7 linked regions of the Homo sapiens genome follow. The protein of the gene in region 6 purifies or fractionates together with the protein of the main gene of each other region. This does not show direct contact. Each region holds a gene or a part of one and is shown on either strand. Other genes may lie near its edges. The genes, in order: CDYL2, RIOX2, MYH7, MYH1, HPSE, ZSCAN5A and MYEF2.

What was found.
Region 1: the proteins of ZSCAN5A (region 6) and CDYL2 purify together in Homo sapiens (affinity purification with mass spectrometry; one large-scale study listed by BioGRID and IntAct). This does not show direct contact.
Region 2: the proteins of ZSCAN5A (region 6) and RIOX2 purify together in Homo sapiens (co-immunoprecipitation; one large-scale study listed by IntAct). This does not show direct contact.
Region 3: the proteins of ZSCAN5A (region 6) and MYH7 purify together in Homo sapiens (affinity purification with mass spectrometry; one large-scale study listed by BioGRID and IntAct). This does not show direct contact.
Region 4: the proteins of ZSCAN5A (region 6) and MYH1 purify together in Homo sapiens (affinity purification with mass spectrometry; one large-scale study listed by BioGRID and IntAct). This does not show direct contact.
Region 5: the proteins of ZSCAN5A (region 6) and HPSE purify together in Homo sapiens (co-immunoprecipitation; one large-scale study listed by IntAct). This does not show direct contact.
Region 7: the proteins of ZSCAN5A (region 6) and MYEF2 purify together in Homo sapiens (co-immunoprecipitation; one large-scale study listed by IntAct). This does not show direct contact.

What each region holds. Positions count from the first base shown.
Region 1 is NC_000016.10:80,629,551-80,633,747, reverse strand, and holds part of CDYL2 (chromodomain Y-like protein 2), read left to right. Parts: intron 1-511; coding exon 512-729; intron 730-4,197.
Region 2 is NC_000003.12:97,948,174-97,952,370, forward strand, and holds part of RIOX2 (ribosomal oxygenase 2), read right to left. Parts: intron 4,080-4,197; coding exon of another isoform or gene 4,022-4,079; exon of another isoform or gene 3,979-4,021; intron 3,969-3,978; exon of another isoform or gene 3,437-3,968; coding exon of another isoform or gene 3,345-3,436; intron 2,716-3,344; coding exon 2,613-2,715; intron 1,843-2,612; coding exon 1,671-1,842; intron 1-1,670. UniProt on the Homo sapiens protein: Oxygenase that can act as both a histone lysine demethylase and a ribosomal histidine hydroxylase. Is involved in the demethylation of trimethylated 'Lys-9' on histone H3 (H3K9me3), leading to an increase in ribosomal RNA expression.
Region 3 is NC_000014.9:23,428,464-23,432,660, reverse strand, and holds part of MYH7 (myosin-7), read left to right. Parts: coding exon 1-22; intron 23-154; coding exon 155-182; intron 183-791; coding exon 792-900; intron 901-983; coding exon 984-1,076; intron 1,077-1,179; coding exon 1,180-1,243; intron 1,244-1,661; coding exon 1,662-1,760; intron 1,761-1,997; coding exon 1,998-2,101; intron 2,102-2,747; coding exon 2,748-2,886; intron 2,887-3,313; coding exon 3,314-3,432; intron 3,433-3,556; coding exon 3,557-3,706; intron 3,707-3,990; coding exon 3,991-4,161; intron 4,162-4,197. UniProt on the Homo sapiens protein: Myosins are actin-based motor molecules with ATPase activity essential for muscle contraction. Forms regular bipolar thick filaments that, together with actin thin filaments, constitute the fundamental contractile unit of skeletal and cardiac muscle.
Region 4 is NC_000017.11:10,511,731-10,515,927, forward strand, and holds part of MYH1 (myosin-1), read right to left. Parts: coding exon 4,196-4,197; intron 3,166-4,195; coding exon 3,138-3,165; intron 2,395-3,137; coding exon 2,280-2,394; intron 2,184-2,279; coding exon 2,091-2,183; intron 1,960-2,090; coding exon 1,896-1,959; intron 1,236-1,895; coding exon 1,137-1,235; intron 1,055-1,136; coding exon 951-1,054; intron 817-950; coding exon 678-816; intron 463-677; coding exon 344-462; intron 259-343; coding exon 109-258; intron 1-108. UniProt on the Homo sapiens protein: Required for normal hearing. It plays a role in cochlear amplification of auditory stimuli, likely through the positive regulation of prestin (SLC26A5) activity and outer hair cell (OHC) electromotility.
Region 5 is NC_000004.12:83,303,625-83,307,821, forward strand, and holds part of HPSE (heparanase isoform 1 preproprotein), read right to left. Parts: intron 2,694-4,197; coding exon 2,579-2,693; intron 1-2,578. UniProt on the Homo sapiens protein: Endoglycosidase that cleaves heparan sulfate proteoglycans (HSPGs) into heparan sulfate side chains and core proteoglycans. Participates in extracellular matrix (ECM) degradation and remodeling.
Region 6 is NC_000019.10:56,220,216-56,224,412, forward strand, and holds the end of ZSCAN5A (zinc finger and SCAN domain-containing protein 5A), read right to left. Parts: intron 3,620-4,197; coding exon 3,416-3,619; intron 2,527-3,415; coding exon 2,376-2,526; intron 2,112-2,375; coding exon 1,360-2,111; 3' UTR 1,088-1,359; downstream 1-1,087.
Region 7 is NC_000015.10:48,150,601-48,154,797, forward strand, and holds part of MYEF2 (myelin expression factor 2), read right to left. Parts: intron 3,294-4,197; coding exon 3,192-3,293; exon of another isoform or gene 1,707-3,191; intron 1,685-1,706; coding exon 1,634-1,684; intron 1,343-1,633; coding exon 1,274-1,342; intron 972-1,273; coding exon 873-971; intron 572-872; coding exon 500-571; intron 1-499. UniProt on the Homo sapiens protein: Transcriptional repressor of the myelin basic protein gene (MBP). Binds to the proximal MB1 element 5'-TTGTCC-3' of the MBP promoter. Its binding to MB1 and function are inhibited by PURA.

The sequences.
Region 1 (4,197 bases), on a different chromosome or scaffold from region 6:
CAAGGCAGCGCCTGAGGAAGCCCTAGGGGGGTCCCAGAGCCCCATCTCTGGTTCTCATATTAAATAAGGTCATGCTCGTGAATGTATTTGAGGGTGGTGCTTAGCACATAATACGGGTTGGTTAAAGGTTAGCTGCTGGTCTTGCTCTTATTGATAATTTCCTATGATTCATAGGCATCCACCAGTGGAGAGGGCTGCCTCTCAGGGTGGTCAGTGGATTCCCTGTGGCCAAGGAATCTGAGCAGAAGCTGATATATGGGAGAAGAGAGTAGAGGACCGCACAGGGCCTTCACAAAGAGCCCTCTAGGTCCCCTTCTGAATTTGGAGATGCAGGAATTCAGCCTGTCTCTTCACCTTCCCTCTTCCTAGAACAGAGGGTGGCACAGGGGAGAAGGTGGTGTGTCCCAGCACATCCAAACCTTTCCATTGGAAATCCCAACGTCCTCTGATCACATCCTTCTAGGATCGTGGTCCATTTCAGTTTCTTACATTGTTTATCTGGTTTTGGAAGGCTCTGCTCTGACCAACGGGGGATTGAACCTGCACAGTCCAGTGAAGAGGAAGCTGGAAGCGGAGAAGGACTACGTCTTTGACAAAAGGCTCAGATACAGTGTCCGCCAGAATGAAAGCAACTGTCGGTTTCGAGACATCGTTGTGCGGAAGGAAGAAGGGTTCACGCACATCCTGCTGTCCAGTCAGACCTCGGATAACAATGCCCTGACACCTGAGGTAAGGGGTGGCGGCCAGAGGGAAGGGCAAGCTGGGCTGTGGCTCCTTCTCACTCAGAATGGAATATTGGCTTTCTCCTTCCTTCCATCAGGGAGCTGAGGATGGTAACTAGCGTGCATAAAAACTTGACTGCAGCGCGCAATTTGCTCATCATTTTACATACATTATCCCATTTGATCTTTATGACCGTGTAATGATACCCTCTCATCTTATGGATGAAGACCATGGGGAGAGGGACTCACTGAACTGATCGTGGACACAGACTTAGCCAAGGGGCAGACCCAGAATCCAAACATCACATCTTGGGCTTTTCCAGCTAAACTTTGTTGTCATCAGCATGTCATATTTGTTGGCCGCAGATATAATTCACTCAGTTAATGTATCTCACTCAGTTTATAATACATATATATGTTACTACATATTGTATATATAATTGAGACAGATTGATTTCACATACCATAAATGTCACCCTTTTAAAATGTACAATTCAGTGATTTTTAATATATTCACAAGATTGTGCAAGCATCATCACTACTGAATTCCAGAACATCTTCATCACCCCAAGGAGAAACCTCACCCACATGAAATAGTAACTTCATTCTCCTTTCTCCCATGCCCTGGAAACCACTCATCTACTTTCTGTCTCTGTAGATTTGCCTATTCCGGACAGTTTGTATCAATGGAAACGTGCAGTTTGTAGCCTTTTGTGTCTGGCTTTTTTCACTTAGCATGTTTTCATGTTTCATCCATGTTTTAGTGTGTATCCATACTTCATTCCTTTTATGGCTAAATAATATTCCATTGTATGAATAGACTATATTTTATCTATCACCTTTTCTATTTGTTCGACTTTTGGCTTGTTTCTACTTTTGATTTTTATGGATAATATTTCTACAAATGTTATATACAAGTTTTTATGTGAACATATATTTTCAGGTTTCTTGGATATATTTCTAATTTCTAATATGATTTTCTTGAGTCTATTCCAATTCTTAGAATTGCTGGGTCATATTGCTTACCGTATTTTTCGAGGAACTGCAAAAACTGTTTTCCACAGTGGGTCCCCCATTTTACGTTCTGACCAGTAGTATGTGAGGGTTCTAGGTTCTCTGTATCCTCGATAACACTTGTTACGTCTGTCTTTTTTATTATAGCAATACTAGTGCATGTGAGGTGGTATCTCATTGTGGCTTTGGTTTGCATTTCCCTGATGACTAGTCATGTTGAGCATCTTTTCATGAGTGCATTGGTCATTTATCTCTTCTTTCTATTCACATCCTTTGCCTATTTTTAAAATTAGGTCACTTTTCTTTCTATGGTTGACTTTTAGGCATTCTTTATTTACTCTAGATAGTAAGGCCTTATCAGATACTTGACTTGAAAATATGTTCTCCTATTCTGAGAGTTGATGTTTTACTTTTTTGATAGTGCCCTATGACAAACAAATTTTTAAATTTTGATAAAGTCTGTTTTACTGCTTTTTCTACATTACTTTTTAAATATTAATCATGCTTATGTCTTAGATGAATAAAATAGGGAAACAATGAATACTTAATGCAGTGAGATTGACAACATCATTCAAAATACAGGGTACATGGCAGGAGAAGGGAACAGATTCTTGACGGCACAAAGGTGGGAAGATGCTCCACGAAGCAGCCTTTTCCTACAAGATGCCTGGGGTAGGGCAGTAGAGTGGTAAATGGCGATAACAGTGATGACAGCCACTGAACAGGGGCTCTTTGTTCCTTGTATTTGCTGTTTATCTCATGTCATTTCGTCACCTCCCTTCTGATGTAGGATTGTTATGATCCACATTGTATAGATGAGAAAATTTAGGCTTAAACAACCCAACTGGGCTAGGGTCTCACAGCTTAACCAAGTAGGTGCCAGGAGGGCAGGGGTTCTGTTCTTGCTCGCCCTTTTGTCTCTTCTGTTCATCCCAGTGCCAGGCCCACTGAAGACATTTAACTCCGAGACCCCTTTTTCTGTCCTTGCAATATCCTGTATTCTCTTTTTCATAATAGCAATGGGAGGTTAATGAGAAGGGTATGTTTTGGAGGATGAAGTCAAGGGATGGCCACTCACTCACATCGGGATAATAGAATGACCTAGCATTGTCCAGTGTACCCCGTACCATCAGGGAGGCATAGGAAGTGGGGTGGGGAGGGAGGTGCTGTGCTCTTGAATTTGTGATTGCATTATTATTATGGTTGAAATAGACCCTGGTTCTTTTACGGGGTTGTGGGTGCGGCCATCTGGAATGATTGACAAATGGTGAGGGAAGCACTGTGGCTAAAGCTTTGGGGTTGTGGGGTAGTGGTTGTGTGCTGCCCCTTCTCTGAGCATGGTGTTTTGGGGGCCTCTCCATCCTCCGCCTGTAACAGAAGCATCCCTGGGGTTCTCTGCTGTGTAGACCTCTGTGTGGGATTCAAAGAAGCCCAGAGCCTGCAGTCCACCCCGAAAGCAGCTCTTCATATGTTTATACACCTGGAAACCTCATTATTTTAAGCTCATCATGACATCTGCAGAGACCAGTTTTTCCTAGATTCTTTCTACTTCACTACTTTCTAAAAGCGTGCTCTAAAAAGGCACAGCATTTTCTTTCAAGAAATTGAACACATGTGAAGTCTCCAGTTCATTCCCTCTGTGGAGCAGCCCTGGGTGGTAACTGTTGCCCACTCATCATGGAAAACATGTTGTGCTCGTCTGATTTAAGGTGCACAGGTTCTCACCTCCTGAGCTGCGGGCTTGGTTAATTGGGGTTCCTGCCCTAATCAGTGTCAGTTGGTTACAGAACAGGAGGAAAACAGTCAAAGTTATTGATCTGGTATTTTCAGCTGTCTCAACAACTGAAGGGGATTGAGTATGTGGGTGAGCCAGCTGACTGGGTAAAGCAGCCCGTAATGAAGGTCCTACTGAAATGAAGAGGCTGTGTGAGAGGAGGAATACAGGTTTTAGTCTAGCAGACCTGGCTTCCAATCCTCCCTTCAACTTACCATGCTGTTACCTTGGGAAGTTACTTTGCTGCTCTGAGCTTCCTCCTTTATAGAAATTTTACAGTATTTTGCTGGCAAGATTAGAGATAATGTATGCACAGGAGCCCACAAAGTACCTGGCATATAGGAGGTATGTAATAAATGTTCCCATCATTGTTAATGGGAAGCAGAGGCCATTTAATGTCCACCAGCAGACATTGCCTTGCTTGTGAATGGAGGAACCAGAAGGCGACCACTTTCATGGTTATAATTAAGTTGCTTTTTCTAGTTGTATGTGTAACATTGGTTGGATTGGCCTCATGGGCAGAAATTCATACATTACTGTGTGCATTAAGTAGATTCTGAAGCTAGTGGGTTTGCTGTAATATTTCTCCTGTCTGGGATACAGCAGAGAACCAGGAGATGAACAGAAATGCCCCTTAAGGAAAGAGTCAGTGAAACAGATGACACAGTCTCCTTGATTGAAAGCTTA
Region 2 (4,197 bases), on a different chromosome or scaffold from region 6:
TTTGCTATTTTGAATAGATACAATCAAAAACAAATTCTAAGCTTCCTCCAAAGACTATGATAAAAATGTATATAGAATCAGTGTTGGAAGGGACCTTATAGATTATCTATCTCAGTGGTTCTCTCTTGGTCATAATTAAGAGTTTTATTAAAGTTAGTAAAAAATACTCTTTTCACTCAACCCTGAGAAAGAACAGCAGCCAAAAAGCTGGCCTGGCACTCACAGCTAGGTCTTTGTGTTCTCCTGTTGAACACAGGCAATTCCACAGAATGCTAACATCAGAGATCACTGTCACCATGATAGGTCAAAACAAAACACCACCACTCCGTACATACTCATGTCTGGACTCAGGCAAGGCAAGAACATATTCCAAACCACAACACTGACCGAACATCCCCCTACTCTGGCTAATGAGTGACCACTTCCGCTTTACCATTGATAACTTCAGCCTCATACATTCCTCCTGCCTACCAGATAACATTTAGGAGACTTAATCATAGAATCCCTTCCATTTCCTGACAGCATCCAATCCAGAGCAAAGCCCTGCTTCCTTGAACCCTCTCCAAAATCACCTAACATACACCTGAGTCCTATAAGTCTTTTCTAACACCGTTTTACTGAGATGCCCTGCAGTTCTCAATGGTGTGTGGTCTTCCCACTGCAACAAGTCAATAAATCCAATTTCGTCTGAATTCAGGAGTATGTTCTTGGTGGTCTTTGCTATAGGATACTGACATCATCCATCTGGAAGTCATCAATGACATCATCCATCCAAAAGTATGTTATATCATTTGCAGCCTAAATCTGTCATAAATTAGGCACCTGTGCCTTGGAGAAGGTTGATGATAATCTTGGACATTTCTTGAATCTCACTGGCTGATGGTAACAATTTTACCCATGCTATGATTTGGATGTTTGTCCCATCCAAATCTCATGTTCAAATTTGATCCCCAGTGTGGAGGTGCAGCCTAAGGGGAGGTGTTTGGGTCACATTGTGGGGAGCAGATCCCTCATGAATAGATAATTCCCTGGGGTTGGGGGCGGTGAGTGACTTCTTGTTCCATTAGTTCCCATGACAGCTGGTGTTAAAAAGAGCCTGGCACTTCTCCTCGCTCTTGCTTCCTCTCTCACCATGTGTTCTGCAAATGCCAGCTCCCTTTCCCCTTCCACTGTGAGTAGCCTGAGGTTTTCTCCAAATGCAGATACCAGCACCATGCTTCTTGTACAGCCTGCAGACCATGAGCCAAATAAACTTCTTTTCTATATAAATTACCCAGCCTCAGGTATTCCTTTAAGCAACACAAATAAAGACAACCCAACCCTGACTTAATTCCAACAAGATTATTTCAATGTTCAAATTTTGAAAACTTCCTGAAGACTATGAATACCAGAGTACCTATAAATATACATATTTCTCACCCAAAAGGACAGGGCTCTTATTTCCCATCAGGGTGGGATACAAGTTCTTTCCAAATGACTTCTAAGATACAGGTTGCTAAAGGTTGAGTGCAGCACATCTCGTCTGCCCATATTCACTAAGGATGGATGTGGTCCACATTAACACGAAAGCACTTCATACTTTCCATCTGTTCAAAAAGGAGCCTACCCAGAAAAACCGTAAACATCCTGCATTAGCCTCTGACCACCCAGAAGAAAACAGCAAGCTCCACCTGGTGTTGACAGCTCTGCCCCATCTCCCGCAGAGTAAGGGGGGAGTCTGTGCATAATAAAATCCTTCTTCATGTCTGAGGAAAGCAGTTCTTTGGTGCCCTCCAGCCGGTCTGCAAGTGTCCTCAGGAAGCCACTTAATCGTCTTGTAGCAACAGTTGTGGATTCCACCTGCTAGGAACACAGAAGTGAGTCCTGGCCCAGATGCCAGCAGAACTTACTGCCCAGCTCAGTCTCCACAGTAGACTGCAAAACTGCCAGCCACCGGGTATAGACATTAATCCATGTCATTCCAAAGGGGAAGGGACAACCTGAGCCCCTAAGAATGATATCTCATCATTTCCTTATAAACACTGTTAATTCTAAGCTGCCTATTGTTTGCAAAAAATTTTCAGAATTTTGCCTAGAAATAGAGATCCTTGGAAATATGGTACAGTCTGAGCTCTGCCTTTTGGAAAGCAGGTCACTGTCCTAAGATGAATGCTTCAGAGAAAGCAACCTTTGCTCAACTCAGCTCTAATCCACTCATCTCAAAACTAATCAAATAACACTCCTGTTTCAAAATGTAATAAAAGAACAGGAGGCCAACGAATACACCGAGGCCAGGATCTCCAGTACAGTGAGTTTCTCTTAACTAGTAATCTGATGTGTGCTAAATCTACAGTTCTCCTGGCCGTACTATTCATTTACTCAACCAACATTTTCACACTGCCTGCTACTGCCACTGTGAAATACAGAGCTGTCTGTACAACATCACAGTTCTTTGGATCACCACATAACACATGGCACTCCACTCATTCTGCAAGTCACACAGCTCAGCAGTGCAGCACAGTAGACAAGCCTGGCTCATGTTGGAAGAAGTATCCTGGGGTCCTTAAGGTAGGACTTCAGCTGGCCTGGGCTGCAGCTACCATCCTTCATTCCTACCTGCCTTTACTCCTTACCAGGAGCAGCTGCCGGGGTATGCCGGTCCGTAACTCCACGTCTTCCTTTGCAGTATCAAATACAAGCCCCGAGATGGTATCCAAAAGGAAATCTCCCCATGAACTAGGATATGCACCAAGGGGGAAAAAAAAACCAAAACAGTGAGTGCATACGAAATATACATAAAATACTTATTGCTAGTAAAGCCAAAAGCTACAAATTGGATTATGGCTTCCCTGTCCAGGCATTTTGAGTTCCATTAATTGGACATTACTCAGCATGGAAATCTAAGACCTTCATCAACCACCCTGTTTCCTCCCTCCCCGTTCCAGACACTCACTTGCAAAGTTAAAAGTGGGAAGCTAGGCTTCAATACTGATTTCTCTTAAAAGCTCTCAGAAAATTAACCATAGACTTTCATAAAACAGGAAGTTCAATGGACCAAATTTTTAACAAAAGTGTCTATGAGGGGAGATTTGTAGGAAATTTAAACAGTCATTATAGGATCTAAAACCAAATTTTATGTGCAATAAATACAACAAATTTGGGGTAACAGCAAGATATCTGGATTGTGTAATTATTTGAACAGTTGTATGTTACATTTTCCTTGTCACTTACAAGGGATGCTACTCCTAAAGAAAATATCTACCATCAATAATTCCAAAACAATTATGTCTAGCAGTGGTTTTACCGGGGGATAGAAGCCAGTGACTAAAAATAACATCTAGGGACAAATATCCCTATTCAATTACCTTTGCTTTCTCTGGGGTATCTGGAATTGGCTCATTCCTAAGTGCGTGCCGGTGTAAGAAATGCACTCTGTGGGGATGCTCTCTTTAAACATTTCTTAGCTATTTAAAATTTTCCTGTGTCACCAGCAGATTTCAAATTGCCGGCTAGTAGAAAATGGAAATTCACAGTATGACTTTTACTTCTCACTCAGTAAGCAAAATTAACACTGTTATGCTTCCCTCCCAGAAAAGTTGCAAAGGAGGACAAAAGCCACATGAGAGACACTTTTCCCAAGACATCTACTACCTGGCGGCCTCACTGCTTTGTGACTTAATGTTATATCCAACCCTGCATCTTTAATTGAGTCTCAACCCGGAGGGCACATGCAGATCTCTCAGCACCATACAATATGTGCTTCCTTTGCAGGTTTATGTAGGTGGAAGTCATACAGCAACAGCTCATGGAGGAATTTAGTAGAAGTTAAATAGTGCTCCTCTAAGAGTCAGAATAGATATTGGGACTTCCCACAATTTAGGAATATCTCTTGAAGGGTCCACTTTGGTAAAACAACCAAATCAACAACATACAGCAGACCCCCAAACACTCCAACAATGCTACCTTGACAGGTGTTAGGAAGAGGCCCCAAATATTCACCTTTACATGGTACCTGAAGGAGCATTAGGCTCAAAACACAGGATCATTTCTGGGGAGCAATGGCCCTCAAGTCACATCTTCTCATTCTAGCTCCAGCATCACTGTCCAAGACACAGGTCAAAATCCAGCCTGGACACATTGATCATGGTACCCACCCACAATCCTAAGCAGGCAACTTCTGTAACTTAGGAAGCTCTTCCCAGCCCCAGCTGAAAAGAG
Region 3 (4,197 bases), on a different chromosome or scaffold from region 6:
GCCTATCAGTACATGCTGACAGGTGAGAGGCCCTGGAAGGGTCTTCCTGAAGGGAACTGGGATAGGCCGGGAGGGAGAGGGAGAAGGAAGGGAGAAGCCCCACGAGAGCATCCTGTGCAGCTCCTGACCTTTCCTCCCCACCCTCTCCCCACAGACAGAGAAAACCAGTCCATCCTGATCACGTGAGTGTAGCTGCTACTGTATTCCCTTTCAGAATCTCCCTGATCCCAGCCTCCAGCCCCATCAGGTGTCCCAGGCCCCGAGGCATAGACTCAGCCTCTTTCCCCCCAACCTCGTGCCCATCTCCTTCTTCTCTGACCATTACCCTGACCCCTCTCTTTGCTCTCCCTCTTCCTTTCTGCTTTCCATCCCCTTCATGTTTTTCCTCTCCCACCTCCTTCACCCACTCTCCAACTCATCACGCGTTTATCCAGAAGCTCATTATCGCCATGTCTTCACCTCTGCATTTTCTTTCCCTTCAGAAACATTTCCCATTCTTCCAGCCCTACCAACTTTTCCCAAAACAGCCCAGGCCCATCTCCCCTGTTTACTTTGCCCAGCCAAGCACAGGCTCAGCCTGCCCAAACCAGTGCCTTCTGGTGGCATCCTTCCTGGTGCCAGCCCTGACCTCTGTGCATCAGAAGACAGTTGTGGATTTTGGGTGTAGATAACCTGGCAGCTTCTTGCCCAGGGCTCCTACTCTCGGGTAGGCCCAGGCATTCTCTCCTGATTTGAGGCTTGCTGGTCTCCAGTAGTATTGTTCACTGCCCAATAAGCCCCTGTCTTCACAGCGGAGAATCCGGAGCAGGGAAGACAGTCAACACCAAGAGGGTCATCCAGTACTTTGCTGTTATTGCAGCCATTGGGGACCGCAGCAAGAAGGACCAGAGCCCGGGCAAGGTAGGCCTGCTGCCCTCCAAGGTCCTGTACCGCAGAAAGGGAGGGAGAAGAGCTCTCACCTGCCTCCTTCTTGGCCTCTGCAGGGCACCCTGGAGGACCAGATCATCCAGGCCAACCCTGCTCTGGAGGCCTTTGGCAATGCCAAGACCGTCCGGAACGACAACTCCTCCCGCTTCGTGAGTGGTCCCTGACCTTGGCCTTGGGACTTGGACTGGTGGAGGAATGGTCTCAGATATGAGCCTTCCCCCAACTCATCACCACTCTCTTCCATCTCTCCAGGGGAAATTCATTCGAATTCATTTTGGGGCAACAGGAAAGTTGGCATCTGCAGACATAGAGACCTGTGAGTGCCATGAATCTGCTAGGCTCAGCCTAAGCTCACCCTTGCTCTAGACCATCTGGTCTTGACCTCTCTCTCTCTCCCCTCCCTCCCTCTGTTTTTCTCCTCTTTAAGTCTCTGTCTGTAGGTGTCTCTGTCTTCAGGTCTACATATCTGTCTCTCTCTGAGACTTCCTCTGCATCTTTCTCCATTTCTGTCTCTGCATGGCTAGGTGTCTTTCTCTGGGATTTCTCTCTGAGACTATTTCTCTCCTTCTGGGTCTCTGTTTCCATCTCTCTGTGTGATCTCTTTGTGTCTGTCCAACTAGTCTCTCTGGCTCTTCCCTTCCCTCTGCCTTTTGCTTGCTACATTTATCATTAATTTTCCTTGTGCCCAAACCCTAACTTTTCTTTCTCTCCTTCTTCTCCCCACCTGTTCACAGATCTTCTGGAAAAATCCAGAGTTATTTTCCAGCTGAAAGCAGAGAGAGATTATCACATTTTCTACCAAATCCTGTCTAACAAAAAGCCTGAGCTGCTGGGTGAGTCAGAGCCACCGACTGAGACCAACTATCTCCATGGCAACCTGGTCCCCTCTGCTTGTGGCTGGACTCAGCTGGCATGCCCTGGGTTTCATGGCACTGCTGGATTCAATTCAGTGGGATGTGGGGCCAAGCCAAGCCCTGTCCTGTGCTCTTCCTCAGGCCATGTGCTGTGGCGAGCAGCCTCCATGAGAGCCGGGGGCTTGTGTCCCACCCTAACCATGTTTTTTCCCCTAGACATGCTGCTGATCACCAACAACCCCTACGATTATGCATTCATCTCCCAAGGAGAGACCACCGTGGCCTCCATTGATGACGCTGAGGAGCTCATGGCCACTGATGTGAGTGTGTGAGGACCCAGCCAGGGGGTGGGAGGATTGGCAGTGAGGGGCAAACAGGGGTCCAAAAGCAGAGCTAAGACGCTGGCCATTGGTTGTTTAAAGTGGTATGGACCTCCTGAGAGCCAGAATGTGCCCTGTGATCAGGGTGTACTGGGGAATGGATGAGGTGAGACAGGACTGGCCAGTATCTGGTGTTCTATCAAACCAGGAAGAGCTGAAAGCCATGAGACAGAGAGACACACAAGCCAAGAAACAAGCATCACCGAGGGAGCAGGACGAGGAGGGAAGGCCATGCAGACGGCATGGGGCTGGAGGGGCTGTTAGGTGAACAGATGCAGACAGGTATGGAAGGCCAGGCAGGAAGCAAGTGTAGGGCCAGGAAGCATAAGTGGGTAACTCAGAAAAGCTGTGGCCACTGACACTGGGGCTGCGGCCAACTGACGTCTGCTCTGCTCTTGCATCTTACATCCTTTGTTTTGGAGTTCCCTGCATCTTACATCCTTTGTTTTGGAGCTCCCCACTGGGTATGGGAGTCTCAGAACCCACAGGGATTAAGGAGACAAGTTTTCTCTCCAACTTACAAGGGATCTCACTTACCCATCATACTTCTTTTTCTGGGGTCCGCCAATATGGGGCCTCCCTACAGAACGCTTTTGATGTGCTGGGCTTCACTTCAGAGGAGAAAAACTCCATGTATAAGCTGACAGGCGCCATCATGCACTTTGGAAACATGAAGTTCAAGCTGAAGCAGCGGGAGGAGCAGGCGGAGCCAGACGGCACTGAAGGTGGGAGGCAGGGATTCTTGGGGGCAGCTGTCAAGTCATGGAGGGCCATGTCTGCTCAGCAGTCATCTCTCTTCTCTTTTTTCTTTTTTTTTTTTTTTTGAGATGGAGTCTTGCTCTGTTGCCCAGGCTGGAGCGCAGTGGCACGATCTTGGCTCACTGCCACCTCCACATCCTGGGTTCAAGTGATTCTCCTGCCTCAGCCTCCCGAGTAGCTGGAATTACAGGCATGCACCACCATGCCTGGCTAATTTTTGTATTTTTAGTAGAGATGGGGTTTCATCATGTTGGCCAGGTTGGTCTCAAACTCCTGACCTCAAGTGATCCGCCTGCCTTGGCCTCCCAAAGTGCTGGGATTACAGGCATGAACCACCACACCTGGCCAGCAGTCATCTCTTTACCAACTTTGCTACTTGCCTTTTCCTTCCAGAGGCTGACAAGTCTGCCTACCTCATGGGGCTGAACTCAGCCGACCTGCTCAAGGGGCTGTGCCACCCTCGGGTGAAAGTGGGCAATGAGTACGTCACCAAGGGGCAGAATGTCCAGCAGGTGGGTCCATCTTCAGATGATAATGGGTGGGCAGGGTAGGGAGACTGGCATGGTGGGATGAGAGTTTTCAAGTTCACTCTTCCCAACAACCCTGCTCAATATGGGTCTCTCCTCCACCTTGCAGGTGATATATGCCACTGGGGCACTGGCCAAGGCAGTGTATGAGAGGATGTTCAACTGGATGGTGACGCGCATCAATGCCACCCTGGAGACCAAGCAGCCACGCCAGTACTTCATAGGAGTCCTGGACATCGCTGGCTTCGAGATCTTCGATGTGAGTTGGGACCCCTGGGAGTGGGAGAACAATCACTCACTCGCTCCCACATTCAACAGCTATTTGCTTAGAGCCAGCTGTGGACCAGACATGGGAAGGCAGTGGGGACTGTGTGGTGACAGAGGCAGTCATTTTCTCTGTCTTCAGGGGAAGCCCTCCTTCACTGCCTTGACATGGAGGGGACCAGCCACGCCCTGCTGGGCTCAGGCACAGTGGACGGGCACAGCCCCAATGGCCACTCACACCCACTTTCTGACTGCTCCCACCCCTCATGCCCCCTGCAGTTCAACAGCTTTGAGCAGCTCTGCATCAACTTCACCAACGAGAAGCTGCAGCAGTTCTTCAACCACCACATGTTTGTGCTGGAGCAGGAGGAGTACAAGAAGGAGGGCATCGAGTGGACATTCATTGACTTTGGCATGGACCTGCAGGCCTGCATTGACCTCATCGAGAAGGTGCCTCTTTGGCCTTACCACCTGAATTCTCCCTGC
Region 4 (4,197 bases), on a different chromosome or scaffold from region 6:
CTATTTTTCATAGACCCTTTCCATAAGTGACTACAGGCATGCTATATGACTGCAGCAACAAGCTTGCTTGTTGGAAACTTTTTTGGTACAATTTTTCTGCTAACTCACATCAAAGATCTCAAAGCCAGCAATGTCCAAGACCCCAATGAAGTACTGCCTGGGCTGCTTGGTGTCCAGCTGCTGGTTGATGCGGGTGACCATCCACAAGAACATCTTATCGTAGACAGCTTTGGCCAGAGCACCCACTGCATTGTACACCTTCACAGATAAAGTTTGTTGGTGTTATTAAAGACATGTCATGAAGGCCTGGGATGTGTGTGATTCATTGAGGTCATGCACTTACCTGCTGCACAGTTTGACCTTTGGTGACATACTCATTGCCGACCTTGACCCTAGGGTAGCAGAGGGCTTTGAGCAGATCTGCAGAGTTCAGATTTTGGAGATAGGCTGCCTTGTCAGCAACTGCAGAAACATAATTCAGATACCTAATATGACTTACTCTGGGACCCACAGTTCAAAGGGGCATAGTATTGAGTAAATAACTTTGTAGAAAGTCTGTGTGTGGGTACATCTGAGTATGTCCATCAGGAGCTCAGCTGTAAAGAAGACTTGAATTTTGGAATGGACATTTTTGCCTATATTCTCTCATTAAACCCAGATGGAGATTCATTTGGTACCTTCAGTGCCATCTGGCTCAGCTTGCTCCTCACGCTGCTTTTGCTTGAATTTCATGTTCCCATAATGCATCACAGCCCCTGTGAGCTTATAGATGGACACTCTTTCATCTGAAGTAAAGCCCAGAATTTCAATGGCACTCTACCATGAGAGATGAGAAGACAAAGATTAGGGCACAAGAGAATTTATACTGTATCTTTTACACACATATAGATGGCTGTTATTGCCATTCCCATGCATAATGGATTTTAAATTAAAATTCATGTATAACTTACATCTGTAGCCATCAACTCTTCTTGGTCATCAATGCTGGGCACTGTGATCTCCCCTTGACTGACGAAGGCATAATCGTATGGGTTGGTGGTGATCAGGAGCATTTCTGGGTCACAGAATTCAGGGCATATGTTTTACATTAGAAGATAGTACAGTGACAATCTTCTAGCTATGAATTTATTTCTTACCAATTAGATCTGGCTTCTTGTTAGACATGATCTGATAAAAAATATGATAGCTTCTTTCAGCCTTTAGCTGGAAAGTAACTCTAGACTTCTCCAGAAGATCTGCAACGGATAGTAGACATCAGATTATGGGGAAAAATTACACAATGTCCTGGAGTGATTTGAGGACTTGGGATCATTAGCTAAATCTCACTGGCCTCTTGAGATTTCAACTGAATGTTCCTGTGAAGTACCACATATTATGTCTCTACAAACACTATTGCAGTTCCTCCTGCCTCCTGGGAAAAAAGTGAAATATGCTTGGCTCAAGATATTCACTTCTCATACAGAAGATCCTTGACATTTGGAATATAATTGAGTCCTGAGACTCCCTCTGCAGGGTCCTGTCGCCATATAATAGAGGGACTACTAAAAGCAACAGTATTAAAGCTCAGACTAGGAATAAATCACATATCCTCAATCCCTGGACAACTTGTTTACTTCTAGTGTTAGTTTTTTCTTAAAAAAAAAATTGAAATCATTCTGAGGCTGGAATACTTTGGACATGCCCAGCAGTTCCTGGCAGTTCCCACAGAAGCATTACCTCATGACTGGAGTGGGTAAAGCATACTGTGGGCTATGGATAAGACTGACATTAACCACAAGCATGTTTGGCAGCAGACTGGTGCTTTACAAGCTCCATGTTCAGCAGGAGCTGCAAAGTGTTCCTCCAAACCAATATTTGTCATTCTTGGATTCTATTTAGGAGGTCCTGTTACTCACATGTTTCAATATCAGCAGAAGCCAGTTTCCCTGTGGTACCGAAGTGGATCCTGATGAATTTACCCTTGTAAGTAAAAAAAATGATGTTATACCCAAAGCTTGAAGTACGTAGTGGGGATGCCACTGAAATAATTCAGACATGCTTTCTCTGGCATCTAAAGGCAGAGAAGACCCTTTGGCAACCAAGAGACTTACAAAGCGAGAGGAGTTGTCATTCCTCACGGTCTTGGCGTTGCCAAAGGCCTCCAGTAGGGGGTTGGCACTGATGATTTGATCTTCCAGAGTCCCCTGCAAAGGCAAGAGCAGTCCTTGCATCTGGGGCTTGGGAATTTCCTACCTGAGAGTCCCGACAGAGCCTGGATTCTGACTAACAATCAGACTCACCTGCATTTTGCCAGAAGTAACTTCTTCCTTCTTCTTCTCCCCAGTAACTGCAATTGTTGCAAAGTACTGGATGACACGCTTGGTGTTCACAGTCTTCCCTGCGCCAGATTCTCCGCTGTCAAAGACCAAACGTATGAGAAATTAAGCACTGTGACAAATGAAACTACAACTACCTCATGGCTTTGTCTTTATATCTCTATTAGAGAGCCTTTTACATCTTTCTTTTCAGCCTACATATAGCTCGTATTATTTCTTTTGCTTTGCACTGGCAAGAAGTAGAAAAAATCAGTCATTGTTCATTTAACACGTATTTCTTGAGTGTTTATAATGTGTCAGCTTTTTTTCTGGGTGCTGAGGCCTGGGCTTGAGGGGTCTGAAAAGCAGCTACTCAGCACCTCTGTAGTGAATGGAACAATTAGTAGGAAACTCTATGAAACGTGCATGTGTTTTTCCATTTCCTCGGACTAGAGACATGGCTCAAGTTTGGTCTTTGAAGGAACAGACATTCTCTAAGTGGGCCTTAAAAATGAACCACTAGTAGTATTTCCAAACTGTTGTACCTTTTGAAGGCTGTATGCTGCTCATTGCACTATACTGGGTTCCAGCCCAGCTCATTTTACACTTTCTACACACCAAAAAGTTCTGTGGAACTTTCAAGACCAGCAAATGAGGTGATTTAGAACATTATTATTTTACATTCTAATGCAATGTAAACCTTATAATAAAGCTAAACCAATATCTAGTTCCAGGTTGATCATTCAGTGCTTTAGTAGAGAACATTAACTAATTTCTTTTTTTGGTTTGTCATTTTTCCAGTAAGAACAAACTGCCAATAAATCTCAGAATAGGAATACATACGTGATCAAGATAGACTGATTCTCCCGATCTAGAAGAAAAACAGTGGAAAATCAGCATATGTATCAGTTACACAAACAAAACTTTCTATAGTGAAACAGGGCATTTGAGTATAAGTGTCATGTATTCAGTGGGGTTTTTCAATATATTATGGTAAAGTTATGGGTGTGTCCTGCTGGTTTAATATAAAGAGCAGTATTCTCCAAAGCTAGATACATTCCGTAGTTGTCATCTGTAGATTTCAATGGCATGCTATCTGCTAATTAATGCATATAGCTGAAAAATGCATAATATGCTAAAGGCTTGGACTATTATTTAATAGATTGAAATAGTGTTAATCAAGCCATGACTGAGATTTTGTTTCTAAATGTGTCAGATGACTTCACAAAGAGAAAAAATTTACTATCTTATGGCCACAGACTAACTTCAATATAGCCCTAACTTCGATCAGCCTTCCCCAAAGTGTACCATTGTGTTAAAGAAAGATGAGGTAAGAGAGGATGCCTCAATCAAAATAAAATCTTTCTAAGGGGGGAAAACAATTTCTGTTTATATGTGTGTAGCCCCAAAACATCATCTTCATTCAAACAGAGGATATTATATCTGAGATGTACTCTGATAACTTTAAAGAGATGACAGTACTTGTAAAAGAATCTAATTTATAATTAACAAGAAACTGAGGCACCAAAAGGATTGAACTCCTATTTTTCATTTCTATTCAGATAATACATGATTTATATGATTCAGTTGTTACTTAATCTTGGCTCTTATTACTTAAATATATAAAATAAATTGTGTGTTTCCAAGCAAGGAGACCATAAACAAATTAAACTTAATGGGATGGAGTAATAGCATGGCCTAGTAAAGTCAGTGAGGTGTAATCAGGAGAGCTGTGTTTTAATACGAGCTTTGACAGTATATACTTCTCTGTGCTTTAGTCACCTCTGCTGAACAACCAGGGGCGTGAATTGGGTTTTTTTCTAAAGGTCTTTTTTTAGTTCTAATATTTTGTGATTATGGATGGTAAAATAATTCATATGAAAACCAGCTGAGCCACTCACCA
Region 5 (4,197 bases), on a different chromosome or scaffold from region 6:
CTGCAGCCTCAACCTCCTGGGCTAAAGCGATCCTCCTGCCTCAGCCTCTCATGTAGCTGGGACCACAGGCATGTGCCACCATGCCCAGATAAGTTTTTGATTTTTTGTTGCCGTAGCTGGTCTTGAACTCCTGGGCTCAAGTGATCCTCCTGCCTCAGCTTCCCAAAGTGTTGGGATTACAGGTGTGAGCCACCACACCTAGCACATACTGAAATATTTATAGATAAAGTAATATATCTGAAATTTGCTTCAAAGTAATCTAATAGGTAGGAGGTGAAAAGTGGGAAGGATTACGGATTAAACAAGATCAAAGTATGCAGGAGGAAATTATATTTTCCTCCTACTCTTTAGTTCTTAGTTGGGATGGACCTCTGTAACAAGACAGAAAACAGGAGAAAACAAACAGAAGCTTGTTAACATGTATATTAATACATGTATGTTAACAGAAAATACCAGGGAACAAGTAATTCTCAAAGAGGTGGCTTAGAACTCCAGCTTATAGAGCAAATTTTTGGACAAGAGACATGACAAAGGAAAAGGATTTTTAGTCTCTGGGGTGGCAAGTTGTGGGAAGGAAAATAAATGAGTATGTAATATAGATTCTTCTAGTGCCATCTCTACACTGATAAGGGTCTGAAGTTATCTTCAGTGATTAACTCTTGTTTTTCCTGGTAGAAAGGGAAGGAGGGGGACTTTTAAGATTCATGTCCTGCTTTTAGGCAAATGGAGAAGGACAGAGAACTTTTCTTCTATGTGTTTCTTCCCAGTTGCCTTTAGCTCGAAATAATCCTTATGCCAAAGTGGCATATTTTGGGGTGGCATATTCTAGTCTCCTAAAGTGGGTTCATATACTTTCCTCTGTATTTTGTATATGATTAAAATTTTCTATAGTAAAAGTTTTTCTTAAAAAACTGCGGATCGGTGGTGGGCACAATGGTTCATGCTGTAATCCCAACACTGGGAGGCTGAGGTGGGATGATCACTTGAGCCCAGGAGTTTGAGACCAGCCTGCACAATACAGTAAGACCTTGTATCAATTTTTAAAATAATAAATAAATAAATAAATCACCATTCAACACATACCCCAACTTTCCTTCTTGAAAGTAGAGGGAAAGTAGACTTAACAAGACAAATGGCTTTTGTTTCTCTGCTTAAATTCCACTTTTTCACTGGAGACAAGAGTGGAATCAATGTTTTCAAAGGAGACATAAGCATGGGTCAATGACTGGTAGGGTAGAAAGTATGCAGGCCTCAGAAGCAGGATTTGAATGGGATTTTTAAGAGTAACATAGGACTACAGTATGGCTTCCTGTAAATCATGCAACCTCTTCTCAATTTGAACTTCCTTATCTAAAAAATGGATCCAAGATACCTGCCTTGCCACCTCACAGGACTGTCATGCAAATAAAATAAAGTCACAGACATGTAGAGTGAGTTTAAGTCTAATTCTCTTGGATCTACAAGTGAGAAGGGTACCATTTACTCTTGCACATTTTTCTAGCTGACTGAGAACCTTGAAGGAGAAGCATATTTAGTGCATATACAAAGAGTTCGTAAGGCAAAGGTTTATGTCTGGGCCCTGGGAAAATTTGGATGAGATAAAAAGGTCAGGAGTAGATTTTGAATGTTTGTCTGGTGAAATTACTATGCTTAGTTTAACTCTATACATGACAGAATATACTTGGGGAAAGATAAATTCCATTTTTGCAAGATCACTTTTCTAAGAATTTTCTAAAAAAAGATGACTAATATGTTCCACAAGCTTGGATCACTATAGATAAAAAGCAATTTTGTTGGGAAGTCTATCCACAAACCACAAAAGCCTAGCTTATATTTTCACGTACGCTCTTTGCAAAATTTCTTAGCTTTCCTACAACATTCAAATAATTCTTTTAGGAATTATTCTTAGAAAATATATATCTGCAAATGACATTTTAGACTATAAAAATCAAGGTCATGCTTCTCAGGGCTACATCTGTATTATCCCTGACATATATTTAGACATACAGATCTTCCACGAGGCTTTTTGGGAAGAAACATTTCCTGATTTAGCACCAGATACAGTTGGAGGAAGGATTAGAAATAAGACTTTATTCATAAATATCTTGAAGATTATTAACAACATAGTAAATTCTTAGCATGAGATTTTTAAGCAAACACATGGTACTGGCTCATTTTAAGGTTAAATAAATTACAATTTCATAACATAAAAAATGTTTTGAAGCTTTGCGTACTGTAGGCAATTATAACTTTGATTTACTTTGTAAAACATTTGAAAATCCAACTTATTTTGTCTTGTATAATGAGTCATAAAATTTCAAATTATCCCCTTTTAAACAAAATCCACACTATACTGCAAATGGCTTACCTTTAAAAAGTTATTCCTAGCTCTTGATTTCTTCTCTTCAAACACACAAAAAAATGTTAGATTGGATGCTATCTAAGGCTCCTTCTAATTCATCATCTCATGATTTGGCTAGTTACTGAGAGGACTGACTGTTCATAGGAGGTTAACACCAGAGGTCCTGAGTTGACTTTAATCTACTCCACTAGAATTAGGAAAATAATGGTCACTTACAGGTAAAGGATCGAAGTTTTCATCCACTAAATGGTAGTTTCCTGCTCCAAAGAATACTTGCCTCATCACCACTTCTATTCCCATTCGGGCTGACAGGCCCAATTTATCCAGCCACCTGGGACAGAGCAAGACCAAGCTTTCTTGAGGTTTGGAAACAAAATCGCTCAATTCTAATTGCACACCATCTTGATTTTATTTATGTATTTATTTATTTACTTATTTATTTATTTAGAGACAGGGTCTCACTCTGTCACCCAGGCTGGAGTGCAGTGGCGTGATCATAGCTCTCTGCAACCTCAAACTCCTGGGCTCCATTAATCCTCCTGTCTCAGCCTCCCAAGTAGCTGGGACTGAAACCGCCTTTGCAAAAATTATAACTGAGGAAATTATGACAGTGAAAGAGATCAGACCTCATTGACTCCATCTTGCTTCTAACCTTTAAGCTGTCCTTCTTCATTCCTGGGTGTAGGCTGAACTAACTTTGGGAAGAAATTCAGTTCATGGTTTGACTCTGAAACAAAAATGATAATAGCCCTTTTCTGAAAAGACCCCCTTCTTGCCTGGGGACAAGTCTACCTTTGCAGGACTAACAAATTAGCTACAACATTAGAGATTACGGTTTAGGGATAATGCAGCCTCTGGCTCCAAGAGTCTGAACCTCCCCAAATTGTTCCTGGGGATAACATCACTGTTGTAAAACCTAAGATCAGTGCTTGAGATATCTTGCAGACCCTGAACTGGGTGGATCATTTGAGACCACCCAGACCGGTAATCTGGCCCAACCAGTTCTGCCATCCCATCCAGGAACAGAAGACAGCAAGAAAACCTCACTTCCACTCCCTGTGATTCCATCTCCAACCTGACCAACCAGCACTCTCCACTTCCTAAGCCCCTACCGGCCAAATTATCCTTAAAAGCTCTGATCCTCGAATGTTCGGGGAGACTGATTTGAGTAATAATAAAACTCTGGTCTCCTGCACAGCTGGCTCTGCATAAATTACTCTTTCTCCTTTGCAATTCCCCTGTCTTGATAATTGGCTCTATCTAGACAGCAGGCAAGGTGAACCTGTTGGGTGGTTACAGGACCACAAGTGCATGCCACCATGCCTGGTTCTGGTTTATTGATCTTTGAGGGAGGAATTAACAGGAAGCCAGAAAAGTGTCATCAATTATAAATAAGTCATTTAAATGAAATGGCAACTGCATGCAGCAGCAGCAGCAGCAGCAGAATCCCTCCCTTTACATCTTTCCATATGATAACAAATCCTAGAAGACTATTACCATGCTAGAGGTATCCCTTTCAGGGTGAGACAAATTCCCACCTCTATAGACAATTCCTGGTCCTATGAGGTCCCTGCACAAACAATGTGTGAGGGCTGAAGAAAAAGTGGCAGTCAGCGGGGGTAAAATGTAAAATAAGCAGAATTGCACCTAAGCTATTATGGACACCTCTTCCCACTTCTCCTTCTCTATCCCCCTTCTCCCCGACACCCCAGATCTTTAGTTAATGGCAAAACAAACATCTCCATTCTTTATTCCTCTTGCTTCCATGGGCATAAAGGATTTGTGATGTATTCTAGGCTTATAAGAATGAGGATGAGAGAAAAAAGAATGAAGAT
Region 6 (4,197 bases):
GCCTTCAGGGGATGGTAGTATCACTAAGACCAACTAGTCACCAGAGACTCCCAATGCCTCTGTAGTTCAAGAGTCAAATCGGGAATTTAGAGGTTGCCAAATTTAGGCCACAAAATACACCATCTGGGGCAGGGAGATAAATATGCAGAGCAGAGAGGATTCCGGGGGCAGTGAAAATACCCCCCAGGATACTCCAGTGGTGTGTACTCATGAGGCCTTTGTCCAAACCCACAGCACGTACAACACCCAGAGCGAGCCCTAATGAACACTATGGACTCTGGGTGGTGGTGATATGTCCAGGCAGCCTCACTGATGGAACAGGTGCACCACTCTGCTGGGGATGCTGGGCAGGGAGAGGCTGTGTTGTGTGAGGAGGGAGTCTAGGGGAACTCTGTGCTGTCCACTGAATTTCCCTGTGAACCTAAACAGCTCTGAAAAAGAAAGTCTAGAGCCAGGCGTGGTGGCTCACCCCACACCAGCCTGGGCAACAAGAAATCCCATCACTACAAAAAATTATTTCAAAAATTTGAATATCATAATTATAATAAAGTCTAATAAAAACAATACAGGGCACAGCGGCTCATGCCTGTAATGCCAGCACTTAAGGAGGCCGAGGCAGTTGGATCACTTGTACTTCGGAGTTCAAGACCAGCCTGGGCAACATATCAAAATTCCATCTCTACAAAAACCACAAAAATTAGCCAAGTTGGTGGCGTGCTCCTGTAGTCTCGGCTGCTCGGGAGGCTTAGATGGGAGGATTGCTTGAGCCTGGAAGGTCGCGGCTGCAGTGAGCGGTGATTATGCCACTGAACCTCAGCCTGCGTGACAGAGGGAGACGCCATCTCAAAAAAAAAAAAAAAGAAAGAAAGAAAAAAGAAAACGAAAACTCTACAGGATACCCAATAAAAGCTGAGTTTCAGATAAATAAATAATTTAGAACATGCTGATACTAAAGAAAATTGTTTATCTGAAACTCAAATTTCATCAGGCATTATGTATTTTATATGGCCACCCTCCTTGGACAACTGTACTTTACAGCAAAACAGTGGGTAACCCCATGTCAATCAGGAAACTCAGTTTTCCGTTATACAATATTGAAAACTAATAAGATGATCGTTTATTGGAAGAACAGCAACACAAACCAAAATAAACCTATAAGAAAACAATGGACATAATGAAACAGAAAACAAAGCTCAGTGGGGAGGACACATATTTACTCAAACATCCTGGCAATTCATATCTAGGGCACTCCCTCTGTGTGTCAGACGCCCTTGCATGTGTCAAATGTCATCTGATAACATTGATGAAAAATATCATTCACTTCTTCTTGGTGCAGAAGGCATAGACCGGATTATGCAATCACTGAGAAGTAGCTTCTGGATGTGTTTTCTGGTGGCGTCTTAACAATTTCAGCCGACTGAAGGCTCTTGGACACTTGGAACATTTGTAGGGTTTCTCTCCGGAGTGGATGCGCTGGTGCTCCTTCAGGCTCCCCCTGTAGGTGAAAACTTTCTTGCAGTCTTTACATTCGAAGGGCTTCTCCCCTGTGTGGCTTCTCTTGTGACACTTCAAGTAGGACTTCTGGGTGAACTGCTTCTGGCAGACGTCACACGTGTAGGGCCTCTCGCCAGTGTGGGTTCGCTGGTGAAATTGGAGGCTAATAAGCTGCATGAAGCGCTTCCCACAGAGATTACATTGAAAGAGTCTCTCGCCTGTGTGTGATCTCTTGTGGATGACTAGCTTGGAATTACACGTAAACCTCTTCTCGCACACGTCACATGCAAAGGGCGGCAGTGCCTTGGCTTCTTGGCCATCCGGGTGACTGACTGGGCTCGCAGGGCCTGGGGAATGAATTGAATTCATCCCAGCTTGTCCCGGGGATTCTCTGTTGCCCACAGGTGTGGCTTCTCCTTGAGGCTCTTCTTGGGAAATGGAGGAGGCATCTGGTTTGCTTCTTTTGGGACTGCTCAGATTCAGAGCGTCTCCTCTGTTCCCGCTGTGAGTCGAAGCTTCTCTCTCCACAACGCAGGCAGAAGGTGTGTCAGCATCCACATTTTCCACAGAGGCTATTTTTGGGGGGTCCTTCCCCTCCTTTGCTCTCACCAGATCTGCTGGAAGAAGGGATTCCACACACACAGTTAATAAAGCGCATTTTCAATACACCAAACTCATTGCAACCAAACACTGATGTTGGCTGACAACTTCCGCTCAAGCTCAAGCCTAAGACATTGGACTGTAGGTCTCTGGAAAGTAGAGGATGGGGAGGCTTTGACAGCTGAGTGCCAACTCCCCCAGGGGATGATAATGCTGGGCCCCCAGCCCCGCACCCCAGAAGAGAGGGACTAACCCCTGTGGATCCAAGTCTTCATACTCACTGGGACTCTTTGGAAGCTGAGGCTCTGGGGATGTCAGTCCTGGGTTCTCTTCCCTGTTTTCCTTCAGATCCTTCTCCAAGGTCTGCTTGGGTCTCAGAGACTTTGGGTCACCTGTTACGTCAATACTCTTGTGTAGCAGAAAGTCCTCTCCCTGAAGAGGAAAAACCAAGAGTAATGACTGCTGTGTCCAAACTGGTGGAAGCAGGGACACATCTGTCCCCTTCTGATTGGATGCAACAACTCTTCTAATGACACAGGTGTGGAAATACGTGCAGACTTCCCCTGGACCACCCCATCACCCCACGTAAACATCACCATCTCATTTCTGTGTCTGTCCCTAATCTGCACCCTCCATATTCCAAATCAGCTCCTGTGCCTGGTGGTTTTCACTGTTTGGTTCTCTGAGCATATTTCTCCCCGCCGTGCCAACGTCTCCCTGCACCTGACACTGGAAGGAGCATGACTCTAGTCGAGGCCCCTCAGCTGTGGCACCACTGGCATTGGGGCTGCATCACCCTGCTGGAGGGGGCGCTCCTGTGCAGAGCAGAGACCCCACCTCCACCCTCTAGATGCTATTAACACCCCACCATCCCCTACAATGACACACAAAAGCATCTCCAGACATGGCCATGTGTCCGGAAAGGCAGAATCACCCCAGTTGAGAAACACTCCTCAAATTAAGAAATTGACAATCTGTAGAAAATGGTTTCCTTGCTGAATTATTACATTAAATGTCTTTGAGGAAACTGGCTACGGGGAAGGAATCTTCATTCATCTGTGCAAACTGCCTCCCTCATTTCACTGAGATCATTTCTTATGCCCCACCCTAAATGCTAAAAGCTCTCATGGTGGAGAGAAAAGTAGATGAGGCTTCCCTCTCTGTGATGGCTCAGGAATGAATGTTTGGGGATGTATCATGTCCATGGGGAATGGCTCTAATCTTGTCCTGTGTCAAATCTCTCAATCAGTCCAGCGGCCACACGATTTCCTCCTGTTCCTTCTCCCACCTCTGCCCAGACACCAAGGCCTCACACACTCACCTGCCTCCTGGACAATGCAGGGACCCTGGGCAGGATCTGCAGCTCTCGGTGGGCCTGGCCTTCCCCTGGACGCATCTGGTTCACCGAGGAGGCCCGTTGGCTGGACACGTCTTTCAGATCATCTCTGACACTGGAGGGGGCTTCAGCCATCTCGATATCTGAGTCCTGCACAATATATTCCTTTCCGTGGAAGGTGACCACAGACTGTAGAGAGAAAAAAGACAATCAGACTCACCATGAGAACCTGAAAGTAGCTCTCATATTCCCTGGGTCCTGCCATAATGCTCACACTTTACTGTAATTAATGTTCAAATCTGCCTTCCCAATAGAGAGTCAGCTCTGTGGACACAGCAATCCTGTCTGAATTTTTTCCTCTCTAGACTCCAGCACCTGCCTGCGCCTGGAATATTCTAGTTAAGTACATAAACATGGGTCCTTTAGATGAAATAGTCTCTAAACCAAAGAGAAGACAAGGAGAAATATTCTGGGTGAATCCAACTCAATTGGCCGATGGCAGCTCACCTTGTATTAGAACTTAGGGGCTCATTTGGGGACCTGGGGGCAGATCCCTGCATCTGATACCAACCACTTTCCCTGCTTCAGGATGGGACTCCTGGGCCCCCCTTCAGTTCACTCTAATGCCTCCTTCCCTACATTCCATCAGGCCTAATATTTCACCAATGTCTTTCTTTCATGTTGGCCTCACACAGTGTGTGGGTCCCTGTACCCCCTCTGCCTGTCCATCTCCTACACCAGGAACTTGCCGTCTCAGCACAGCTGAT
Region 7 (4,197 bases), on a different chromosome or scaffold from region 6:
ATGCTATTACGGGAAAGGTTCAAGAGGAAAAGAATTAAGTACCTCTTTCAACCTTAGCCTGACTCAAGCTCAGGAGATGCCTAAGAGTGCTATATCTGCATTTACCAAAAGACATAGATGTTTACAAATAAAATAAGCTAGTCACTAATAGCTATTATAGAAAATAAGCAAGGAAACAAAGTTGGTGCTAAAGCAAAAGTTGCTCCTGAAACATGATCAGAGAAATCCCCAGATTCCTTAGTTGGAAAGAAGGTTCCTGGATTGGCTGTTAACACATAGTTTAGAAATATCAAAAAAGTAAAATTCAAACAGTTAATTTAGAAATTTCAAACAATAATCAAACAGAAAGGCTTTGCTCAATTATCAAGGTTTCTCAAATTATAGCAAGACACATTAACGTATAAGAACAAAGTATTACTATACTACGATAACTACTCTTGCAAAGTCTTTGCAAGCACTCAAATATTACTGAATAAATTCTAGTAAAATTTAAACCTACTTATTCCAGATCCTACTGGACCCATGTTAGAAGATCCTATTCTTCCTGCAAACCCTCCAATCATTGCACTGCCTAAACAAGGATGGAAAGATAATATACTAATTAATTTTAAATAATCATACTTTAAAATTCCCAAGGTACTATGTGCTCTGATTTACAATAAATGAAAAGCATAAAGTCTTCTGAAAATAGAGTTCAAATATGTAAGATGTTGAAAAAGAGAGCTAGCATATTAAAATCCTTAAAGTGTTTTCTTCAGGTAATAAGTTGTATAAAACATTATGATTTTCTGATTTTTCACAAAAAAAGAGAAACCAAATTTCAAAAATTATAGCCTACAAAAAGAAAAGGAGAAGTATGCAGCCAGCCCTACCAAGTCTACCAAAGGAATCTCCAAAGCCTCGATTTATTCCAATATCACCACGTCCAAAATCTCGCTCCATGCTACTAGTCATCGCACCACGGTACAGCTCTGAAAAAATTGTGCAACAAATTAACCTTTTCAAATATATCAATACATGTTGAAAACATTCAGGAATGTATCTAAATTATGAAAAGACGCGTAAGTCACAAATATAAAATAGTCTGTCATTTACCCAATTTACCTCACATGCCACACATATCATCCCCATTCCCCAGGCCTGTCCTTATCCCCTAGTGCCTATATGCCTTCTGAAGACATTTTTAGCACACATTCCTAAGTTATAGGGGGGAAATATTAATAATAGGGAAAACTAAATATGCACACACTTCCCACTGCATACATTTACCTACCTCCCATTCGGCCAACTCCTCCAAATCCTCCCATGCTATTCATTGCTTCCAGACCACCAAACCCTATTCCTATGGAATAAAGATTAATTTTGAGATCCAACTGTCAGTCATGTAGCTGAAAGGTACGTTTTGTAAATGTTAAATCTCACCAGTAAGCTCTTCATCCACCCTACCTTGTGCAGCTACTTCTTAACACATCACCTTCCTTTAAGTATGTACCAGGCTCAATTTCTGCTAGCAGCCTTTAGAACATGAGCCAACAATAAACCATGACTTTTTTTTCATGGAATTCTCAACACAGTTTCTAGTTTATTAAAAATGGTGATGGGTACATACAAAAAAACAAATCTTTATACATACCTCCTCCAATTCTATTCATTCCTCCAAAACCTGGACCATCCATTCCCATACCTCAAATAAAATACACAGTATGTACTTTAAGTATATTTTATTTTTATGACTAAAAGATGATATAATGCATTATAGCAAAATAGATACCACTGGTATAACCACAATGAAACACTAGAGAAGCGGTAGGGTACAGGAGGCATGGTTTAAAGTGCTATGCCATAGCAGCTGTCTAATCATGAATCTTCAAAAGGGTTTCTTTGAACATTTATCAGACAAGAAAGCAAAATTCACTAGTAACACCCACAACATTCAGTTAGAGAATATCTTGAACTAGGTAATCATTCACTTTTTTTTCCACAATAAACACAGAAATACTACTATCAATGATTTTTTTTTTCCAGCATAGACACAGAAATAGCATTACAGCAGATTTAGAGATCAGGCCAGAATGTAAGGACTCTCTAAACATCGCAGTTAAAAGAGCAGTAAAAATTTTCAAAATATAAATAGTATGTATTTAGGAGAGGGTAGGTAGGTGTGAGAGTCTAAGGGTAAGGGAGAAAACTTGTTTGGATCAGAATGATTATGATAATGAGCCTCATAATTTAAAGTGTGACTACAGCATCTTGACAAAATAGGAATCTGATAGCATTTATTAGTCCATCAATTAAAACAGTAATTCACAAAGTATGGTCCAGGGACTCTTGAGGGTTCAATAGGTCAAAACTATTTAAGTCACCAAATACTACTAAGACATTATTTGATGTTTTACCCTCATTCTCTTGAGTTTAAGGTGTAATTTTCCAAACACTATATGATGTACAATATCACAAAAAACTAAAGTGCAGAAACAGATATAACAGCAATATTAAGCCAAACATTAAAAAGATGTGTGGAAAGGTAAAACAATGCCACTCTCCTCACCAATTTCTTTTTTGCATTGAAAAATAGTTTATTTTCTTAAAACTTTTATGTATGTTAACATGTAATGAGTTTATCATTTTTTAATATGTAATTTTTTTAATTTCTAATTTTTCATTTATAATACAGTAAATACTGGTAATTATAACTACATAAACAAAGCATTTTCGGGTTCTCAACAAATTTTAAAATATAAAAGGGTCCTAACACCAAAGTTTAAAAACCAATCTCTAAAAATGAACTGTGAGTTCTTCCAGGTGAGCAGCCAAATAACTACCTGAAAAGCCACCTTCCCAAATGGATAAACAGATTTTAGCTGCCTATGATATGGTAGCATTTCAGCTACTCCATAAATACTGTTCATAGATGATATATTCTCCTTCTGCCTTCAAGACATTTCAAAATCCAAAATGCTAAAAGGCTAGCTACAACATAGCTGGCCCCAAAGAAACCCTCCTGACTTCTGCCTATCTCTTTCATGTTAGCTGTGCTCAAGGTTTCATTCCTTTTTCAGAATGAAGTGACACCGTAAATATCTAACTATTAATTAGAGTCCTTTAAACATTATTACAGACCACATCAATGGAGGCTTTATTAGCTAGCATATGTATCATTTAAAAAGAAAAGAGGAAGTTAGAATACTCACCACCTGGACCTAAATTTCCCATTACTCCACCTATGTTCAACTGGCTGGCACTAATAGGCTGTCCACCCGGACCAAGTCCCATCCCAATGCCTCCAAGACCACCTAAAACAAAAATGAGAACAATCATTACAAAGATCCATATATGATTAACTAATTGGCAATAAAATTTTTTAAAAAGCTATATACCTGTAGTAGTATCTGTAAAATTTCTGCAAATTTTCATATAAAAGCACTGGTTCTTGTTTTTGTCTAGAAAGTAGCACACTGAAGCCCGACTATAAAACCATTTATTAATGAGAAGTGTTTTATGAAATAAAACATGATATAATACAAAGTACACCTTATACCCCACTTAAAGGTACACTGAGAGGAATAATAAAATACCTAGAGGATTTTGAATAATATCATATCACCTTATATATGGCACACATATCTGAAAATGAGTATCTTGCCCAAATTTGTAGACCCACTTAAAATTTGATAATTACTTTTTAAATGGTTCAAATCAAACTAAAAAGTCAATAACCATGAAAGTATAACACTGAATAAGGCAAATATTATATTACCTAGTTTTCTCATTGATATAAATATTTATTTATATTTATATGGCACCTTAAGTGTTTCCACATCTATTGTCCATAGAAGAGGAAATTTTTGAGACCTTAGGTTGCTTGCATAATGACATGTAGCTGATTTTAAGACTTTGGTCTTTGCTGTCAAACTGCACAAACTGCACAGGAAGGACAGATTACTTATAAAGAAAGGACGATTCAACAAATAGCTGACTTAATAGCAACAGTGTAAACATGAAGACTGTAGAATACTTTCAAAGTGCTTAGAGAAAATAATTATCAATCTTTATACAAGTTAAACTATCTTTGAAAACATTTAAAACCCAAAATTGAGAGAATTTACTAATAAAAGATCCTCACTTAAAAGAGCTTCTAACATATATGCTTCAGGGGAAAAAAATTAGTGCCAGAGTCTATAAAAGCAGAGGAGTGAT